2 linked regions of the Homo sapiens genome follow. The protein of the gene in region 1 purifies or fractionates together with the protein of each later gene. This does not show direct contact. Each region holds a gene or a part of one and is shown in the gene's direction. Other genes may lie near its edges.

The links.
Region 2: the proteins of CELA2B (region 1) and CD109 purify together in Homo sapiens (affinity purification with mass spectrometry, with the first as the bait; one large-scale study listed by BioGRID). This does not show direct contact.

Annotation. Positions count from the first base shown.
Region 1 is NC_000001.11:15,485,777-15,489,204, forward strand, and holds part of CELA2B (chymotrypsin-like elastase family member 2B preproprotein), read left to right. Parts: intron 1-124; coding exon 125-270; intron 271-1,508; coding exon 1,509-1,661; intron 1,662-3,428. UniProt on the Homo sapiens protein: Acts upon elastin.
Region 2 is NC_000006.12:73,804,203-73,807,702, forward strand, and holds part of CD109 (CD109 antigen isoform 1 preproprotein), read left to right. Parts: intron 1-2,641; coding exon 2,642-2,870; intron 2,871-3,500. UniProt on the Homo sapiens protein: Modulates negatively TGFB1 signaling in keratinocytes.

The DNA of each region.
Region 1 (3,428 bases):
ACATGGCTGTTCCCATGTTGCAATGGATGGAAGATGGTAACAGGGGAAATCCAGTAGGGGTCCACCACTTCCTTTTTCTCAGGAGTCCCTGCGTCCCTAATGGCTTCTCTCTGGTCTCATTCAGCCAACGGGGCTCTCCCTGATGACCTGAAGCAGGGCCAGTTGCTGGTTGTGGACTATGCCACCTGCTCCAGCTCTGGCTGGTGGGGCAGCACCGTGAAGACGAATATGATCTGTGCTGGGGGTGATGGCGTGATATGCACCTGCAACGTGAGTACCAAAAATCAGGGGCCCCGCTCCATGACAAAATGTGGCTGGGGATGGGAAGAGGCTATGGAAAACCATCCCTCCATAGGTCCATCCTCCGACCTCCTGGCAGAAGCACCCGGAAATGGTACCAGATATATCAGAACCTGACCTTTGGCCAGGCATAGTGGCTCATGCCTGTAATCCCAGCACTTTGGGAGGCCGAGGTGGGTGGATGCCTTGAGGTCAGCAGTTCGAGACCAGCCTGGCCAACATGGTGAAATCCTGTCTCTACTAAAAATAAAAATTAGCCAGGCATGGTGGTGGGTGCCTGTAGTCACAGCTACTTGGGAGGCTGAGGCAGGAGAATCACTTGAACCCAGAAGGCGGAGGTTGCAGTGAGCTGAGATGATGCCACTGCACTCCAGCCTGGGTGACAGAGTGAAACTCAAAAAAAAACCTGACCTTGTTCTTGTTTGTTCTTGTTTTGAGATGTTTTGAGATTCTCCTTGTAGTGTCCACCCATCTCACTGCTGGGAAGTCCTTCCCTGGGTCTCATCAAGGTCTCTCGTGACTGTCCTTCTGTATCCTTTCCTCTACGCTGGAAGGGAACCAAAGGAAAGTATTCCCTGGCTTAAGGCCTTTCTAAGATGACTTCTGGTTTTTCTGTTGAATTACTCTCATCAATGGCGCAGTGTGTCCCCTCCAGGTAGCTGTCACGGAAACCTTCCTGGAGACAGTGTCTTAACCACCAGGAATTGCTCTGTGTTGGACTTAGCAGTGAAGTGGGGATGGAGTAGGAAGGAGATCCACACGCCCTTCAGATCACACTGTGCCCTACACACTCTGCCCACATAGACCACCTGCGGGAAGACAGAACCAGTGGGGAAGAGCCTGGCAGCTGAAGTCTGGGATGTGGCCTCAGCTCCTTTACAAACTGCCTGTGCAACCTTGGGCAAGTCCCAACCTCTCAACACTCCAGTTTCTCCTCTTCCGTGGCCTGGGGATACTACGAATATTTACCTCATAGGATTTTGTGAGGATTAATGAGATGAGGCATAGAACATGCTTAGCTCAGCTCTAAGGAAGAATAAGTGTTGGCTCTTGTTGGAATTATGGTACCACCTTGAGCTATGACCACAAGGACCAGCTTCAGAGGACAGTGACCTGCAGCAGAACAATAGAAATGCATTGAGAACAATGGTTCCAATGGGCAGCCCCTTCCTCCCACTTCAACTCCCTATAACTCTGGCCTTCCTCAGGGAGACTCCGGTGGGCCGCTGAACTGTCAGGCATCTGACGGCCGGTGGGAGGTGCATGGCATCGGCAGCCTCACGTCGGTCCTTGGTTGCAACTACTACTACAAGCCCTCCATCTTCACGCGGGTCTCCAACTACAACGACTGGATCAATTCGGTAAGAACCGGAGCAGCCCTGAGCCCCAAGGCACTGACCTGCTCACCTGGCCTCGGGAGTGCCATGCCCACCTGGCGACTGAGAACCCCCTCCTTCCTCTTGAGAGCTAGATGGGAACCCCTTGGAGGAGGCTGCAGACCTTGGCAACTGCTGAGTCCCCCATGGGTCCCCAAAATTTCTGTGTGGGTAAAGCTGAGTGAAAAGGAACATGAGAGTATGGCCTTGTCCAAAGACGTTGGACACTCCTCAGGTACGTTAAGAGTGAGTTCCACAGGAATGATTTTATTTTTGTGTATTTGTGTGTGGCCCAGACTCTACCATCCAGTGCTATAAATGGGTATATGTCTGCAAAACCCAAAACCTGATACTTTGAGACCCCCATAGCATTAATTATTGGAAATTAGTCCCCCTCAAGGGTCCTCCAGCTATTCTGTAGGGTGACCAACCATCCCAGTTTGCCCAGGACTGAGAGGTTTTCCAGGATGCGGGACTTCCTGTTTTACACTGGGACCATCCCAGGCAAATAAAGCTGAGTTGGTCCCCGTCTTGTAAATGTAAACTCAGAGAGCTGTCTCCTGTGAGCTTCCACACTAGCTCAAATTCTTTTTAACAATGAACACACATTTTTTATAACAATAAGCATTAAAAATATTTATTAAAAATAATAGGCCAGGTGCCATGGCTCATGCCTGTAATCGCAGCACTTTGGGAGGCCAAGGAAGGAGGATTGCTTGAGCCCAGGAGTTCAAGAGCAGCCTGGGCAACATAGCGAGACTCTGTCTTTACAAAGATTTTTTTTTTTAATTAGCCATGGTGGTGCATGCCTGTAGTCTCAGCTGCTTGGGAGGCTGAGGTGGAAGGATCGCTTTGGCCCAAGAGGTGGAGCCTACAGTAAGCCAAGGTCGCACCACTGCACTGCAGCCTGAGCGACATAGCAAGACCCTGTCTCTGAAAATAATGATAATAATAGTTGGCATAAATATTAAGGAGCAGCCATGGATACACACAGAAGTAGATGAAAGCAGCCAGAAGAGGAAACCCCGTCACAAGAAAGGGGAGCCCAGGAGAGGGCAGAGGAGACACCATGCCTGGTAATAGAAGCTGGGGGAGAAGAGGCGGATACTTTGTGCCAATTAGGGACCACCTGTTTGCTCTTCTGTAAAGTGGGACTTGAACTAGACCTCCACATTTTTAGGCACTAGAGCAAGAGGGAGTTATGGTATTCGTGGCAGAGCCCCCAAAGAAGGGGAAAGCTGACATCTGACTTCACTAAGTTTAATTTGCAGAGAAGTGTTAAATTGAATTAAACTGACACTTATAAAACCAAATATGAAACTGCAGCCATAAGCACGTGGTCAGGGGAGAAAACTAAACTGTCAAAATAAGCAGGTGGCTGCTTCCAAGTGTTCCCATTGATTCTTGCCAGCTCCTTGTTCATTTGTCTGTCTGCTGGCATCCTTTTGCCAACAAGTGGTCATAGGCAGAAATTCCAAAAAAGTTTGTTGGAAAAAAATGGAAAATCAAAAAGACAGTAGCCATTAATCATTAATTGGGGCTTTTTATATCTAAATTGGGAAAAACCCATCTGAGTCCACCTTTGGAGGCACCACGCACGTCAAAGGAGCCTGGCCTGAGACTGACTGGACGAAAGGCTGCTTAGGGGCCTTTCCCAGCCAAATCCTAAGACCGTTTTCCAGCCCCAGCTGCTGTGGGAGTCACCGTGCAGCTGGTCCTGGCAGCATCCTGGGGACCTGAAGCAGGGGCAGG
Region 2 (3,500 bases), on another chromosome or scaffold:
TTGAATATCAGTAATGTTTACCACATGAAACTTTATATAACATGAAACAGATCTGCTTCAAATTTTCTCTTGGCCTTGGCCTGACTCAGGATATAGAACCATAAATAGAAAGCTTTCAGTGTTGTATTGCTTGATGTTCTTTTTACCTCAGTATAGTGTTTTGTAGCAGGGACTGGCAAACTTTTCTGTAAAGGGTCAGATTGTAAGTATTTCAGGCATTTTGGGCCACGTAGAGTCTCCGTTGCATGCTCTTCCCTCTTCCTCCCTCTCCTCCCTCTTTCTTTCCTGTCTTTGTCTTTTTCTTTTCCTTCTTTTAAAACCCGCTCTTAGGTGGTGGTGTTGGCAGGTGGGGGCTGGGTTGGTGCACACATAAACAGGCCCTGGGCTGTATTTGGCTTGAGGGCCAGATTTGGGCCAGGCAGATTTGGCCCACAGGCTGCAGTTGGCTAACTCCCATTCTATAGGAGAGAAAAATATCATTTTCCCCACCTGAAGTACTACAGTTTGCTTGTGAACTATGTATGCATTCTTCACCCACAGCTTTGGGGCTGACTGAAGCGTGTTGGAGCTCTTCTTTGGTAAATATCTAGAACAGTCCAAAGATGAATAACCTTGGACAATTTATTTAACTCTCTTGGACTGTCAGATTCTCAGTCTACAAAATAATGGAGCTGGATTCAACAGACACATTAAAAAATGCTCATCATCACTGGCCATCAGAGAAATGTAAATCAAAACCACAATGAGATACCATCTCACACCAGTTAGAATGGCGATCATTATAAAGGCAGGAAACAACAGGTGCTGGAGAAGTTGTGGAGAGATAGGAATACTTTTACACTGTTGGTGGGACCATAAACTAGTTCAACCATTGTGGAAGACAGTGTGGTGATTCCTCAAGGATCTAGAACTAGAAATACCATTTGACCCAGCTGTGGGGAAAAGAAAGAGAGATCAGATTGTTACCGTGTCTGTGTAGAAAGAAGTAGACATAGGAGACTCCATTTTGTTCTGTACTAAGAAAAATTCTTCTGCCTTGAGATGCTGTTAATCTGTAACCTTACCCCCAACCCTGAGCTCTCTGAAACATGTGCTGTGTCAACTCAGGGTTAAAGAATTAAGTGCTGTGCTTTAGATATGCATACACATAAACATCTCAATGCCTTAAAGAGCAGTATTGCTGCCCGCATGTCCCACCTCCAGCCCTAAGGCAGGTTTCCCCTATCTCAGTAGATGGAACATACAATCGGATTTTATACCGAGACATTCCATTGCCCAGGGACGGGCAGGAGACAGATGCCTTCCTCTTATCTCAACTGCAAAGAGGTGTTCCTTCTGCTTATACTAATCCTCCTCAGCACAGACCCTTTACGGGTGTTGGGCTGGGGGACGGTCAGGTCTTTCCCTTCCCACGAGGCCACATTTCAGACTATCACATGGGGAGAAACCTTGGACAATACCTGGCTTTCCTAGGCAGAGGTCCCTGCAGCCTTCCGCAGTGTTTGTGTCCCTGGGTACTTGAGATTAGGGAGTGGTGATGACTCTTAACGAGCATGCTGCCTTCAAGCATCTGTTTAACAAGGCACATCTTACACAGCCCTTAATCCATTTAACCCTGAGTTGACACAGCACATGTTTCAGAGGGCACGGGGTTGGGGGTAAGGTTACAGATTAACAGCATCTCAAGGCAGAAGAATTTTTCTTAGTACAGAACAAAATGGAGTCTCCTATGTCTACTTCTTTCTACACAGACACAGCAACAATCTGATCTCTCTTTCTTTTCCCCACACCCAGCCATCCCATTACTGGGTATATACCCAAAGGATTATAAATCATGCTGCTATAAAGACACATGCACACGTATGTTTATTGCGGCACTATTCACAATAGCAAAGACTTGGAACCAGCCCAAATGTCCATCAATGATAGACTGGATTAAGAAAATGTGGCACATATACACCATGGAATACTATGCAGCCATAAAAAAGGATGAGTTCATGTCCTTTGTAGGGACATGGATGAAGCTGGAAACCATCATTCTCAGCAAACTATCGCAAGGACAAAAAACCAAACACCACATGTTCTCACTCATAGGTGGAAATTGAACAATGAGAACACTTGGACACAGGAAGGGGAACATTACACACCGGGACCTGTTGTGGGGTGGGGGGATGGGGGAGGGATAGCATTAGGAGACATACCTAATGTAAATGACGCGTTAATGGGTGCAGCACACCAACATGGCACATGTACACATATGTAACAAACCTGCACGTTGTGCACATGTACCCTAGAACTTAAAGTATAATAAATAAAAATAAAATAAAATAAAATTAAATTAAAAAATGGAGCTGGATTAGATCATTTCTAAATTCCTTTTCAAATCTGAGATTTTTGAGTCAACATGGAATTTCTTGGCCAAGCCCAAGTGGAAACCAGTTCTGCCTGCTAGAGAGAGTTGCTTACCTTGTCCCTTTGCTCTTTCTTTTTTGATTTTTTTCTTTCCTTGTTCCATCTTCAGTGATTCCCCCTTTGATGAATCTTCTGATGGGGGAAAAAGTGTTGTTGTTTTGCTTGCTCGGTGTTATTTGGTGGACCTTATAAAGTGTATTTTATGTAATTTTTTTCTCTTTTCATAAAGGTTGTCAGCTTTTGTTTTAAGATGTTTCCTTGAAGCCGATCCTTACATAGATATTGATCAGAATGTGTTACACAGAACATACACTTGGCTTAAAGGACATCAGAAATCCAACGGTGAATTTTGGGATCCAGGAAGAGTGATTCATAGTGAGCTTCAAGGTGGCAATAAAAGTCCAGTAACACTTACAGCCTATATTGTAACTTCTCTCCTGGGATATAGAAAGTATCAGGTATTTCGTATTTAATTTAATAAATGATAGATGGGAAATTCAAGGAAGGTAGGTCTTAATGGGTCAAATATGTGTGTGGAAACTTAACAAGTTGCAGCTTTACAACACATGTGAAATCTGAATTTGAGTACTCTTTTGCTTTGCATTTGTGGCCATGTTCCAAAATCTGAGAATAAAACATTAACCCACTCTTTCAGAATAACTAAGAGAATTCTAAAAATGCTTTTTAATGTATGTATTGTACTTGCTATTGGTAAGATAAGTCAATACATGTTTTATCATTGAAAAAGTTAATTTCTGAGGGGAAAGAAAATTATTTAAAATTTGACAATGTGTTCTAGCAAGTTTAGATTGCAAAGGATTTTTTACTTATAAAACATCATGGAACAGTTACAATATCTGTTAATTTAGTGCTGAGAACACCCATACCCTGAAAAGTGTGTTGAATGGGCATGGATGCCTGGATGAGAATGAGTATGCGTGGAAAGGTATGCTGACGAGCTTAAGTTTGCTCCAGAGCTGTCCTGGTGATTGATGCCTTTACTGCTTACTGCCTGCTGCATTTTATGAGATCACCAAAGTCATTCTCTTTATTAGGACCCCCACTATTTTCCTATTCTACTAGTAGGC